2 linked regions of the Homo sapiens genome follow. The protein of the gene in region 2 purifies or fractionates together with the protein of the main gene of each other region. This does not show direct contact. Each region holds a gene or a part of one and is shown on either strand. Other genes may lie near its edges.

Region 1 (7,268 bases), on a different chromosome or scaffold from region 2:
TCAGTGGTAAGTTAAGCACAAAAATGTACAAAAAGCCATCTCTTGTGTTCCTTTTGAAAAATTTTAACTATAAAAGTAGATTTATGGCATGTGAACTTTAAGATTCTCAGTGCTTTACAAAAATGCTCCCATCATGTAAAGTGGGAGAACCCTTGTCTATACCAAGACACTTTATGTTTAAACCATCTACTTCCAGTTTTTCTACTTCAAAGTAAATATTTATATAGGTTGAACATCCCTAATCCAAAAATCTGAAATTCTCTAAAATCTGAAACTTTCTGAGCACCAGCATGACATTCAAAAGAAATGTGCTATGGAGTCAGATCTTCCGATTAGGGATGCTCAGACAGTAAGTATAATGCAAATATTCCAAAGTCTGAACAAGCCTGAAATCCACAACGCTTCTGGTCCCAAGGATTTCAGAGAAGGAATACTCAAGCTGTGTATTAAATATGCACACACAGGAAAAGGTAGGCACATATACAAAGAAATTTAAACCATAATGGGTCGTCTCTGGTTAGTGAGCTCTTATTTCAATCTCTTTGTACTTTCTAAAATGAGTATGTATTTCTTGAAAAATCACTAAAACTGGCTGGGGGTGTTGGTTCATGCCTGTTGGGAGGCCAAGACAGGTGGATCACTTGAGCGCAGGAGTTCAAGACTAGCCTGGGCAACGTGGAGAAACCCCATCTCTACAAAACATATAAAAATTAGCCAGGCATGGTGCCATGTGCCCAGGAAGCTGAGGTGGGAGGATCACCTGAGCCTGGGGGAGGTTGAGGCTGCAGTGAGACGAGATCAAGCCAACACATATCAGCCTGGGCAACAGAGATGAGACTCTATCTCAGAAAAACAAAAAAAAACCAAAAAACCCGAACCCGGAAACATTAAAAATAGACTTGTGCTAAGCGAGTGAAGTGTGATTTCTATACACTATCAAGAAATGGCCTTCATGAGAAGTCCTGAAAATGACCTACTGCCTGAATCACAGACACACTAGATGATAGTGAGAGTCCAAAGGTAACTTCCACAGACACAGCTAAGTGATTATACGACTCTTACAAGCTATGAAAAGTTTAAGGGTAAAAGCTTTCTATCTTCATTATTTCTGAATCTTAATGCCCAGCGGAAATGCCACACAGGTGAACTGTGCTTGTGTGGAACAAGGCTGCGACCCCCCTACCACACCCTCGGCTGGCTGTTCCCAGGACGCTGCTCACCGTGTGTGGAAAAAGGCTGCGACCCCCTACCACACCCTCGGCTGGCTGTTCCCAGGACACTGCTCACCCCAACCCCACCTCCATTTCTGCCCTTCTCTGCTTGCTCAGTGCCCAGGGGATGCTAAAGGCTGCACCACATCCCCTCAGCTCCCCTGCAGACGCTTCCAGTTGGCCCAGCCCGTGGGAGGAGAGGGGAGGTGTCTCTTCTGGGCTCCCTTAACGTGGGACTGGTTTCTGGTAATGGCTGTGTGTCCCCACCCCACAGATGCTTTCTCGCTAGGTCCACAATCATCATCTCCTCCCCTACCACCAGGCCTTGGACACTTGCTCCTGCCCAGTGACGTCCATCTGGCGCACACCACGGAGCAACCCTTCCTTAAGGCTCCTCTGAACCACCTGCAGGAACTGGATTCTGTTTCCAGCCCGAAGCCCGACTGCTGTCGGAGTGCCTTTTTCAGCGGTGCCTCGAATCTGTCGGGAGTTGATTTAAATCTGGCCTGCTCTTCCCCGTTCACCATCAGCAAGGCCAGCCCGCAGGCCTGGGCGGGGCCGTGTGGGTGCTGGGCTGTGGTGAGAACGAGCTCCACACTGACCTTCCCAGTGCCAACGTCCACATAGGACAGGGTGTGCTTCCTCCAGTGCTCCTCAAAGGGCTTCTTCTGTTGCCCCTGGATGGGCTTGGAGTAATCGTACTCATCAATCCGCACCTGAGGCCAGAAACACCATCACGTTTCTTATTACTCTAACAGAGCAATACAGAAAAAACACAGCAGACATTAACATGATCTAAGAGACAGATGCCCTAGAACTCATTCCATTTCCACTTCAGCCCAGGAGGTTGGCACCATCAACATGTTCAGAACCCACGGAGGCCGCATGGCTGGCCAGGGGGTGTGCAGCCAGCAGTGAGTCCACAGTAATCCATGTCCGCATGTTCCCTTAAGCATCCTTTATGTACCTAAGAGTTTATCAAATACTTTGTCTTTTTGCTCCATGTGCTGGGAGACTACCTCAATCTTTTCTTTCAGCCTGTTTTTATTAAAAAAAAATTTTTTTTTTGAGACAGGGTCTGGCTATGTCACCTGGGCTGGAGTGCAGTGGTGTGATCACAGCTTGCCGGAGCCTTGACTTCCCAGGCTCAATCAATCCTCCTGCCTCAGCCTCCTGTGCTACCACCACACCTGGCTCATTTTTTATGTTTTTGTAGAGACACGTTTCGCCATGTTGCCCAGGCTGGTCTACAACTCTGGGGCTCAAGTCATTGGCCTGCCTCAGCCTCCCAAATGCTGGGATTACAGGTGTGAGGCACTGCACCTGGCTTCTATTCTAATTAAAACTGACTGTGACCAACTAAATTTATGCACTGGCCAGGCACAGTGGCTCATGCCTGTAACCCTAGCACTTTGGGAGGCCGAGGTGGGTGGTTCACTTGAGGTCAGGAGTTCGAGACCAGCCCGGCCAATATGGTGAAACCCCATCTCTACTGAAAATACAAAATTAGGCATGGTGGCAGTGTGTCTGTAATCCCAGCTGCTTGGGAGGCTGAGGCAGGAGAATCACTTGAACCCGGGAGGCAGAGGTTGCAGTGAGCTGAGATCACGCCACTGCACTCCAGCCTGGGGGACAGTGAGATTCCTTCTCAAAAAAATAAAAATAAAAATAATAAATTTACTATTATTCTGTATTCTGGCAAACACGGATTCATATACTTTGCAGGAAACTCTTAATACATACAAGGAGACAAGAGCAAGTTCTGAGCAGTGATCACAGCCATCAGCATATTCTAGTGGAGGGTAAATCAGTAAAATTTCATGGTGAATAAAAATGATTTTCCCATTCACCATGTTCAGCTGACTGGAAAGGCTGCCACCAGCCGCCTACACACGGTCCTGAACCAGCCTGTGCGCCTGCCTTGTGGAGCCTTTGTCCTTTTGCTGATGTGGTTTATCCTGAACTTGCATTTGCATCCCAAGCTTCCCTTTCCGTCGTTTTTTGCTATCATATGGGAAAAACTCTTACCAGGCAGAATCCAACACGTGCGCTCTGCACAAAAATCAGTTCATCTGAAGAACAAGTGACCACAGGGCAGGCTCTATAATACCTTTTCCAAACCACAGGACAGGTCTGAAATGGTGGCTTACTCCTTATTTAATAAACTGGCATTTCCTCCACAGCGCAGGTCTGAAATGGTGACTTACTCATTAATAAACTGGCATTTCATCCACAGGGCAGGTCTGAAACAGTGACTTACTTGTTAATAAACTGGCATTTTCCTCCACAGGGCAGGTCTGAAACGGTGGCTTACTCGTTAATAAACTGGCATTTCCTCCACAGGGCAGGTATGAAACGGTGACTTACTCGTTATTTAATAAACTGGCATTTCCTCCACAGGGCAGGCTTGAAACGGTGACTTACTCATTATTTAATAAACTGGCACTTCCTCCACAGGGCAGGTTTGAAACGGTGGCTTACTCGTTAATAAACTGGCATTTCCTCCACAGGACAGGCTTAAAACGGTGACTTACTCGTTACTAAACTGGCATTTCCTCCACAGGGCAGGTTTGAAACGGTGACTTACTCGTTAATAAACTGGCATTTCCTCCACAGGGCAGGTTTGAAATGGTGGCTTACTCGTTATTTAATAAACTGGCATTTCCTCCACAGGGCAGGCTTGAAACGGTGGCTTACTCGTTATTTAATAAACTGGCATTTCCTCCACAGGGCAGGCTTGAAATGGTGGCTTACTCCTTATTTAATAAACGGGCATTTCCTCCACAGGGCAGGCTTGAAACGGTGGCTTACTCGTTATTTAATAAACGGGCATTTCCTCCACAGGGCAGGCTTGAAACGGTGGCTTACTCCTTATTTAATAAACTGGCATTTCCTTCACAGGGCAGGTTTGAAACGGTGGCTTATTCGTTAATAAACTGGCATTTCCTCCACAGGACAGGTTTGAAACAGTGACTTACTCGTTAATAAACTGGCATTTCCTCCACAGGGCAGGTTTGAAACAGTGGCTTACTCGTTATTTAATAAACTGGCATTTCCACCACAGGGCAGGTCTGAAACGGTGGCTTACTCGTTATTTAATAAACTGGCATTTCCTCCACAGGGCAGGCTTGAAACGGTGGCTTACTCGTTATTTAATAAACTGGCATTTCCTCCACAGGGCAGGTTTGAAACGGTGGCTTACTCGTTATTTAATAAACTGGCATTTCCTCCACAGGGCAGGTTTGAAACGGTGGCTTACTCGTTATTTAATAAACTGGCATTTCCTCCACAGGGCAGGCTTGAAATGATGGCTTACTCGTTATTTAATAAACTGGCATTTATTTCCTGGTCTTGCCACTCTAGCTGCACTTCTAACCTTGGCCTTCTAACAGCAAAGCACATTGGCTTGGAGATGCCACTGCTGGCATCAGTGGATGCCGACCCAAAGCAAGGAAAAGGTCACAGTGATCCAGAAGATGGCGAGAACCCAGGGATCAAAGTTACCAGGGGGGAAAAAGGCATTTTTTGGATTTACTTTTGGGGCAACGAAAGAAAATGCAGAGAAAATGCAGGGGTGGGGCTGAGTCCCACCAGGTGGCAGGAAAAGGCAGGTGCAGGTGGGCGTGGTGAGAAGGCCCACCTTGTAGTCTTCCCTGGCATGCGCGCCCCGTGACTCCTTCCGTGCCTCTGCTCCGTAGATGGTCTGCAGCGCACACAGCATCAGGTTCTGCAGCTCCAGGGTCTCCACCAGGTCCGTGTTCCAGACCATTCCTGGGGACACAAAAAGTTCCATCAGGGGCAGGCGGGACCCAGTCACATGGGCCCTCCGAGCTGTCAGCCTGGGCCTGCTAGTCCATGGAGTCACTGGTTGTGGCTTTATAGCTGTGGGCCAGGACCCATCCAGACAGCAAGCACGGAACTAAGTCAGCACTGACGGGACAGACACCAGCCCACCCTGCAGAAGGAAGGGCCCAACAGTGTGCACAGAGCCCACTGTCTGCTCACCCCGGTCGAACGTCTTCAGGTGCTTTAGGTCTCCATAGAGCTTGCTGATTTTCCCACAACCTTCTTGCAACACGCTTCCCACACGGAACACGGCAGCATGATTTTGCATTGACTGTGGCACAAAATATTATTTGTAAACTTTTAATCCATAGAAGCAGCCATACCAAGAACTGCTTAACTTTTAGACCTGTTGTTTTGCATTTCACTTAAAAGTTACATAAATTAAACAGAAAAATTAGGAAATTCAGACTATGAGTTTATTACTCCAAACTTAAAAATGAAGTTTTGACTAAAGCTTCTGAATAAATAAATGTTTCTATTACATACACATCTTAGACCCACACACATCCTTTCCAGCAGGATACAGCCAGGGTCCAGGACTCCAAGCAGACTGCCTGTGAGGCACCATGTTCCATACAGCTCCACGGCCAACCAGGCAGCGCTGCCTCTCCACACCCCTGGCGGGACTCCTGACGCGGGGTCTGGTGGTGAACGTGACACAAGCCAGCAGCCCTGTGGTGATACACACTAGGAGGAGCTGAGCAGAGCCCTGGTGATGGTGGTGTTGGAGCTGCACGTCTTCAAGGAGAGGGAGGGGCGTGGGTGGCTGGGGCCCTTGGCCCATCTGGCTACTGTCTTCTGCCTATCTTGTAGAAGCTCCTTGTACACTGAGTTCCTTCATAGTTTTACTGTGATGAGAGACGTGCTATGCAGTGGACCTGAAGTTTACTGTAGGTATGCTGGGAACTAGGCGTCAGCTTTTGCTTCCTGTGGGACAGGCACCACCTCAGTGATCCCTCCTCCTCCTTGCTTCTCCCTCTAACTGTGCTTTGCTCCACTGACCCTAATTTTCTCTTCCTCTACCAATGCACCTTCATGGTTTAATTTGGACATTTCATCTGATTTTCCTTAGACTCATACATAATCGTAACACTGTAATGCACATCAACCTAATGGTTTTTCAGGAAGAACAAATGAAAAACATTGCATCTCAGAATCTAGTATTACATTCTTTCATGTCCATTAGCAGCCACATGTTTTCATATCCTTTTTTTCGTATTTCTGGTTACATTATTTCAGGGCATTTTCAATTTTTTTTGAAATGTGAATGAGATATTTACTGATGTCTGAGCAGACTACTGCTGGCACATTGTAAAGCTACTGATTTTTAGATACAAATCTCTTATCCAGACACCTTACTACATTCTTGTTTTGTTTCTGTTAGTTTTTCAGTTTATTCCCTGGGAATTGTTTGGAAATTCTATCTGTAAATAATGACAATTGTATCTATTCCTTTTCAATATTTACTGCTGAGACCAGCTCGGTTGTGGAGACCCTAACCCAGCGGTGCTGGAGGAATTAAAGACACACACACAGAAATACAGCATGTGAAGTGGGAAATCAGGGGTCTTACAGCCTTCAGAGCTGAGAGCCTTGAACAGAGATTTACCCACATATTTATTGACAGCAAGCCAGTGATAAGATTTACTAAAAGTATTCCTTACGGGAAACAAAAGGATGGGCTCTGGCTAGTTATCTGCAGCAGGAAAATGTCCTTAAGGCACAGATCGCTCATGCTATTGTTTGTGGTTTAAGAATGCCTTAAACGGTTTTCCACCCTGGGTGGGCCAGGTGTCCCTTGCCCTCATTCCAGTAAACCGACAACCTTCCAGCGTGGGCATCATGGCCATCAAGAGCATGTCAGAGTGCTGCAGAGATTTTGTTTATGGCCAGTTTTGGGGACAGTTTATGGCCACATTGGGGGGCCTGTTCCCAACGTGTCCCCTTTATTTGTTTTGCAAAGTGATAAAAGCAAAGGCAGCTTTGTTACGGTGAGCTACTTCTTGCAGAGTCAGGATCCACATCTGCAGACTATACAAATAACACAGATTAAAAGCACAATCTTCATTGAAATCACAGAGCTTCCAAGTGTTTTTATCCATTTTAATGGATTACCAGCTGCTAATCTGTCTGCAGCTCCTTCAAGCACTCCAGTTCCTGGCATTAAGGTCAGGTGTGCTGGGATGCTTCAAATATCTGTTCTTTCAATTT
Region 2 (7,876 bases):
GAGCAGCTGGGATTACAGGTGCATGCCACCATGCCCAGCTAATTTTTGTATTTTTAGTAGAGACGGGGTTTCACCATGTTGACCAGGATGGTCTCGATCTCTTGACCTTGTGACCTGCCCGCCTCGGCCTCCCAAAGTGCTGGGATTACAGGCATGAGCCACTGCGCCCGGCCTTACTCTGATTTTCTTAAACTCTCTACCATGAGGTAGCATGAGTCCCATTTCACGGATGAAGTAACCGAGGCTCAGAGATATAAAGCCACTCACCCCAAGTCAACACAGCTAGTAAGAAACAGAGCCTGAGGCTGGAAAGCAAGTCCATCTGTCCCCCACACCCACGCTGCCTCCTGGACAGTTACAGCTGCCGAACAAGAAAGGAAATAGAATGTCAGGTACCTTTCTGCGTCCTGGTCTGCACTCTGCTGTTTGCTCTCAAAGGCGTTGAAGCTGCTCATGTCCACGTAGCCATCATTTTCGTTTGCTGTGGACAGGGCTCTGCTCTGATCTTCAAACAGCTTCGTGAACGCGCCAGCCCTGGCAGGTCTCCGGGGTGGAATCTGGATATTCTCATAGTCCGAGTTCATGGCTGGAATGTTCTCATAGTCTGAAGTGTCAGCGCTGGGGAAGGAGATGGACCGTGGCTTGGTCAGTGGCAAGGGCAGGAAGGGCGGCCGGGAGCGGTCTTCAAAGGACTCCACTCTGGACACCGTCCTGCTGAAGGGGACACCTTTCCTCTTGCCATCTCTATAAAAGATGAGGGAGGAGGGGGATTCAGAAGCCCGGAGCTTCCCAGTCCGAGACTTAAGCTGAGGGGAGTTGCTGAGGCTTCTCCGGTCAACTTCCAGAATCCTGGAAGGCCCGTGGTAGCTGGACTCTGAAGAGGACCTAGAGGAAGACACGTTCACATCCACATGCAATTTGTTCTCCGTCTTCTTCTTAAACGTCAGTGCCAGGAAGCGCTTAAAGGATGACTTCTTCTTCTTGTACTTGTCCGGGGAGTCGCTCTCGATCAGGAGTGAGGGAGAGCTCTTTGTGATGGGCTTCTTGGTGATGCAGGCCAGGTCGAAAGGAGGTGGGATGTCGACCATGGAAGAAGGCGTGGAGGTGCCGCTGGACGGAAGGTGGTTTCTCTGGGAGAAACTCCCAGAGGAGCCAATTACACACGACAGAGAGAGATTGTCCTCTTTCCTCTTTATCCTGTGGTCATCCAACCCTGACCCCTCAGGCTCCTGGTACACGGACACTGGAATCTCTCGGCCTTCCACGGAGAACGACCGAGGGTATAAAGTAAAGGCCCTGGGCTTTGCTGGCAAGGCCCTGCTGGCTTCCAAGGGCTTCCCCTCCAATGACAAAAGCGTCTTTCCCACCTCCTCTGCGGCACCTCCAATGCCAGGGGCTGACGAGCCCGCCTCAGGTCCGGTTTCTTCAGGGACGGTTTCTGGGACATAGCCGGCCACCTTCCCAGAGTGGGGCCGGACCCTCGTGCTGGTGTTCTTCCTGTCCGCGGGAACCAGGCCACCCTCTGCCTCACAGTTCAATTCTTCTTTCGAGCCATAACCACCCAGGGCGTCCGATGCAGCCTGCCCTCCTTCTCCAGGGGCCGCCTGACCGGGCAGGCCCACTCCCATCACATAGGGGTTGGCCAGTGCATCATCCAAGGCCTCCTCCTCCAGCACGACCACCACATCAGGGGCTGCGGGACCCTCGGCCGCTCCACCCTGTAGGGAGCCACACTGGCCACACAAAGCCCCCACCATGGGGTTCTCCTCCGCACGCAGCCCCAGCTTTGGTGCCTGCTCTGATTCTAAACCTTTCGCTGATTCAGAAAGAGGAGAACAGCTCTCGCTGCAAAAAGAGGTGCTCTCAGTTGGGAAGAACTCATAGGGGCTTCCTGTGAGGGAAGTCACGAAGTCCTCCATGCAGTCATTCTCAAAAGGGACAATCTGGCAGCTCTCCTCGGCGGACTCATCCTGTGCATGGTCCTCCAGGGTGGCGGCTGCCACTTCTTGGTTGGTTTTCTTCTCGTGGTCAGGTGGTTCACTGAGGTCAACCTGTTCCCCACCTGTGACACCCGTGGCCTCTTCACATCCCTCCTCAAGAACTTCAGGGCAGTCTGTGGCTGTCTCTGCCTCCTGGACCCCGGCCAGCTCCTCCTTCTCAGGGGGCTCCTCACTGGTGTCCTCAGCATCCTGTCCCATGTCCTCCGTGGGCCTGTCAGGACCCGAACCCTCATCTGCCCCTGCTGGGTCTGTGCTGGCACAGCCTTCCTCATCATCCTCCTCTGCCTCCCCGGGGGTGTCGGGGGGCTCCTGGTCCTCTCCATGGATGTGAGGCAGGAGGAGGTCGCTCTGGAAGACCCCCTCTCCAGCCCAAGGCCCACTGTCCTCCAGGCTGCACTCCCTGTGTGGCTGCACTAGCTTCTCTTCCTCCTCACTTCTGGACACCTGCTCCAGTGTCCCTGGCTCATCAGCGCAGCCCTCCCCTTCATCCTCAAGAGCAAGGTCTGTGCCTTCCTCACCCTCCCTGCTCAGCGCTCCTGCACCCGGAGCAGCAGGGGCCACTGAATCCTCACCAGCTCCTGTACCCTCCAGGCCACATGCCTCGCCTCCCTCTTCACGCTCCTCTTCCTCTTCCGCAGAGGACTCGGGAGACACCAGGGCTTTGTTCCCCACACTGCCCTCGTCCTTGGGTTCATCCTCCCTCAGCGGAACCCTGGGGACCACGATGTAATCCTCGTCGGTCTCCGACTCAGAGCACTTTGGGATGGACCGGGGCCCCTCATCAAGCCCCCTGTCTACACAGGGCAGCCGCCCGTTGCTGCATTTGTTCAAGCTGTCATTCAGGTACACACTGGCTCTCCACTCGTTTGGGGCAGTCAGCCTGGGCTTGGGGGCAATGGGGGGCTTCGGACCCCTGAACATGGAGTTTGGACTGTGAAGACTCTCGGGCCTGGCTGAGGAAGGGAATTTGGGCGCGGTCACTGGCGTCAGTGGACTGGTAGTCTTTGGCTTGGGAGCGACAGGTGGTTTTGGTGAATCTAGATGACAAAAATAGAGAAAAGGAGAAAAAGTACAATTAACTTTATTGCCATTCAGAGTCTCCTACACACCAGTTGCAGGGGACGCCACAGATGGTTCCGTCCATCCATGTGAAGCCCACCTCCCGTGCTTTGTCTTAGGCTTATGCCCTCCACCAGAATCTTTAAAACCCCTTGATTTTCCACTAAAGATTCATTCTGTAAACAAAGTGAACAGACCTTTCTTCTACACGCAGCCCAACTAACGAAAATCAACCAAATGAAATCCTGTGCTCCTCAAATGAAGTGTCCAGGTCAGTGCATTCATTCATCCAGCAGCTACTGATAAACACTTTCTATGACCCAGCAACCATGGGAAAAGGCTGAACTTGCTGTCACCCTCCCTGCTGCCCTCATGGAGCTTACATCCCCCCTTCTACAGCTACTCCATTGGGTACCCACTAGCTACACGCACAGCACTGCAGATGGCAGGGTCTCCTAGGGTCAAGAAGAGAAAACAGACTCTGCTGAGAACTCACAGTTGAGTTACAACAACTGGAGGGTAGAGCCGGGGACCCTTGGAATATTATGACTGAATAGCTGCCATTTCATCCCTTCATGAATGACACGCCAAAGGTTTGAAAGAGTGATGTGTGCTTCTGCTGGGGGTCACGTCTGGAATCTGCATGCTTCAGGACTGTGTCCAGCCAGGCCTACACCCAAATTTCATGGGCATGCAAATTTCATGGGAGAAATTATATAGTACGTGCCAACATGGATCTCTGGAAAAGGATGTACTTGCCACATGGATATCTGTGGATGCTGAGGACCTTCTGACCATGGCAGAATAAAAGATGTGGTGCAGACTACAATGCAACTGGAATTAGAGAAGCATGGGCTGCTGTGGCCAGGGAAGACCTCTTAAAGAAGGTGATATTTTAGCTAAGATTTGCAGGATAAGAAGGATCTAGAGAAGGGGAACGGTCAAATGAGTGGTTGCCAACTTTTGAGCTCAGCATCTCTCTGCTACAAGACTGCCCATGCCTCCTCCCTGGCTTCCTTGTCACCTGCCTGGCCCCCTAAGCTCCCTTGCATACTGCGGGCATAGAATCCATCTCCATCCCAACATCTCTGCTTCAAAAGTACTGCATGGATCCCTGCCACCCATAGATTAGGACTCCCACGTTTCTCCTTCAGCCTGGTCTAATCTCCCAGCTCCATTCCCACTAAGGCTTGGGTATGACACAAGTGGCCTCAAAATAACAGCCTGGCTCCTAACAGGAGGGAAGATGAAGCAGACTGCCGGGAGATCTCTGCCAGCAAACTCTTCTCTTCCCACTCATGTTAGGCCCAGTGTTGTCCCTGAAACATCTAACATTACTAATCTCTAATCCAGGGCTGTCCCTGGAATGTGAGCCACATGTATCACTACATAGGCAATTTTAAATTATCTTGTAGGCACATTAAAAATAAATAGGTAAGGCTGGGTGCAGTGGCTCACACATGTAATCCCAGCACTTTCAGAAGCTAAGGTGGGCAGATCACTTGAGGTCAGGAGTTCGAGACCAGCCTGGTCAACATGGTGAAACCCCGTCTCTACTAAAAACACAAAAATTAGCCGGGTGTGGTGGCACACGCCTGTAGTCTCAGCTACTCAGGAGGCTGAGGCAGAGGAATCACTTAAACCTGGGAGACAGAGGTTGCAATAAGCCAAGATTGAGCCACTGAACTCCCGCCTGGGTGACAAGAGCAAAACTCCGTCTCAAAAAAAAGTAAAAGTAATTTTAACGATATATTTTATTGGACTCAATATATCCAAATATTATCATTTCAATATGTAATCAATATATAAAATGTATTAATGAGGTGTTTGACACTCTTTTTTCATACTAAGTGTCCCAAATCTAATATGCATTTTACATTTGCAGCACACTTCAATTTAGACTAGCTACATTTTACCTGCTCACGAGCCACATGCGGCTGGTGGCTACGGTACTGTCCAGCACAGCTCTAACTGGTTTTAGACATCTCCATGGGACTGTACCACTGGCACCTCAATTTCAGTATTTCTGAAGCCAAAGTTGGTATCAGTGCCAATGGGTTTAAAGGTTAAAACAGCCACTGCATCAGACCCCTAATCCACACCATTTCATCCACATCAATGCCCAGGCCAGCCACTGACATCCATACAATGACCCAGAATCTTCTAGAAATAGTGACTATCAAACTCCTTGTTTCCGTACACAGTCACGTGTGTCCTAGTTTAGAAAAGCGTCTATCCATATTAGTGAAAAACAAAACATGGGAGCTTAAAAAGATATGCTTCAGCTACCTGTTAGAGTAGGGTAACAGAGGGAGCCTTTGGAGCCTGGCTGATCTGGGTCAAATCCTGACTTTGCTACTTATCAGCTATGAAACTCAGCCTCAGTTTCCTCATCTGTAAAATGGGTACCACACAGCACCTACCCTCAATGGATTGTTTTAAAAATTAAAGGCTACATATCAAAAGGGCTCAATAGCAGGCCTTCACATAGAAATACTCAATAGTAGCTGTTGTTCAGATAAAGTCCATCTTTGCCTACCCCAGATCTTCCCTTGGTTGAAGTCTTGCTCTACACTGATACACTGCGTAATATGAGCTTCACACTGTCAACATTGGGTGGCAGGCATTGGCACGAAATTATTCTTTGGGGGTGGGACTCTCATTTCTTATCCTTAACAGGTGGGCATTTCACATGGGTGCCATGAGACAGGACAAAGGGACAGGTGGGCCATGAAAAATGACCATCACCTTGGCTATATCACCCCCGTCCCACCCAATCCTTCATCCAATCAAGCTATTGATCTGAAGGCACTGTCTCCTAGGGAAAGGTTATGGTGGGTGTCTGAGGCATGATCCTGCAAGAAAATGACTTCCCCACAGGAGCCTCTGGGAATGGCAAACACTCAGCGCCTGTCCTGTGCTCCCAGCCCCAGGCGCAGAGTGCTTCAGCCACATCCCTTCTGAGATCAAGGCAAGCCAAAAGAAGAAAGGCTTCATCTGACCCTCACTGAAGGAGGAGGAAACTAAGGCACAGAGAGGGTGAGTGGCTGGTGTGGGGCTACCCAGCGAGTCCAGAGCAGGGCCCTGGTAGAACCTGCGTTTCCGGCTTTCTAGTGTTGTCACCTGACCCTCTGCCATCCCCTTTTTGCCACAGAGTGTTTCCTCTATGATGGAGACTCAGAGGTCCCAGCATCTGGTGAAGCAGAGAAGGGTAAAATGCAGGGAAACTAAGGCCACGGTGACCAGAAACAGCTGGGCAGTTAAAAAATGTATGTAAGGCTGCGTCCAGGGCTCAGAACTACTAACTGACCAAAAAGTGAACAACTAGCTTTAATTTGCTCCCATTCAATTTCTCTTAGTCTAATTCCATTAAATACATATTTATTGAGTACCAACTATGTGCCAGGCCCTAATCTAGATTCTTTGGATACATCAATAAGTATAACAAAGCCCCCAGACTCAGGGACCTTGTATTGAGAGGTGGTGGGAGATATGCAAGAGAAAGGGTAAGTACATTACATATCATATGCTAGATGATGATAAAGTCTATGCAAAATGATTAGGAGTATTTTTTTTTTTTTTGCGATTTTAGATAGAGTGACCAGCATAGGCTTCACTGAGAGGACATGTGAGCAAAGACACGAAAGTGGTGAGGAAAGCTAGGACTCACTTGGCATCCAAGAAACAGCGAAGAGGCCGGCAAGGCCAGATGGGACGGAGTGATCGAGCAGGAGAAGCAGATGAGGCGAAAGGAATCATAGGAGGGTGCAGATTATGCAGGGCTTTGACTCAGAGTGATGTGGGAAGCCACTGCAGGGTTTTGAGCAGAGGGACATGCACATTCTGGCTAATGTGTTGAAATAAACTGAAATGGTGAGGAAGAAAGCAGGGAGACCAGTGAGGAGACTCCTGCAATTATCCAAGCAAGAGATGATGGAGGCTTGGACCAGGCTGAGGTGAAAAGAGGTCAGATTCTCAACAGGAAGGGAGAGCTGAGGGGATCTGCTGACCATATGAATGTGGGGTGTAAAAGAAAGAGAAAAGTCAAGAACGACACCAAGGTTTTGAGTCTGCGCAACTAGAAAGCTGAAGTTTCTGCCAACTGGAACAGGAAAGACTGCAGGTGCTGGGGAGGGAAATCCAGAATTTCAGTTTGCACGGGTCAAACTCCATTCACAGTCACCTACTACACACCCTGGTGGAGATGTCAAGCAGCTGGAGATGTCAAGCAGGCTCTGGCTTCTGAAGAGAGGTCTGGCCGGAGGTCACCATCATAGAGATGGAATTTAAGGCAGGAGCCTGTTGAGATCACCAGAGGCATGAGTGTGGACAGAGAAGAGGGCAGGGCCAAGGAGGGAGCTCTGGGGGCCCCAGCCAGCAGAGATGAGGAGGGTGCAAACAAATCAAGAGTATGAGAGCATCCAGCTCTGTCCCCTCCTACTCACCCGCATCACAAAAGGGAGCCAGATGGAGCTCCTGACCTCAGCATCATGTTATCTAGGTCTAAGGGCAATTCTGCCTAGAGAAGACCCAGAAAAGAGAGAGCACTGAGTGCAAGTTGAAGGACAGGAGGATTTTCACAATTAAAAAATAGGCTCCACCTGGATAGAGCATTCCAGGGAACTTTAGGGTATGCTGAGCTTTAGGGTATGGTAGGGCGAAACTATAGGCTAAATCAGAGCTGTGGTTTCCTTCTCTGGATTCCCTGTCCAGAACCCAGCATGGATGTAGCTGGTGGACCTTCTGGGCCCCCTGAGTTCCTCTGGAGAAGGCTATGGTGTGAACCTTCTCTCTCCTTGTATCACGGAGCCTGGGGG

Evidence for each region.
Region 1: the proteins of FGD5 (region 2) and SDHA purify together in Homo sapiens (affinity purification with mass spectrometry; 2 studies listed by BioGRID and IntAct, with this or other methods). This does not show direct contact.

Annotation. Positions count from the first base shown.
Region 1 is NC_000005.10:249,052-256,319, reverse strand, and holds part of SDHA (succinate dehydrogenase [ubiquinone] flavoprotein subunit, mitochondrial), read right to left. Parts: intron 5,329-7,268; coding exon 5,217-5,328; intron 4,983-5,216; coding exon 4,852-4,982; intron 1,928-4,851; coding exon 1,814-1,927; intron 1-1,813. UniProt on the Homo sapiens protein: Flavoprotein (FP) subunit of succinate dehydrogenase (SDH) that is involved in complex II of the mitochondrial electron transport chain and is responsible for transferring electrons from succinate to ubiquinone (coenzyme Q).
Region 2 is NC_000003.12:14,814,117-14,821,992, reverse strand, and holds the start of FGD5 (FYVE, RhoGEF and PH domain-containing protein 5), read right to left. Parts: upstream 2,922-7,876; coding exon 397-2,921; intron 1-396. UniProt on the Homo sapiens protein: Activates CDC42, a member of the Ras-like family of Rho- and Rac proteins, by exchanging bound GDP for free GTP. Mediates VEGF-induced CDC42 activation.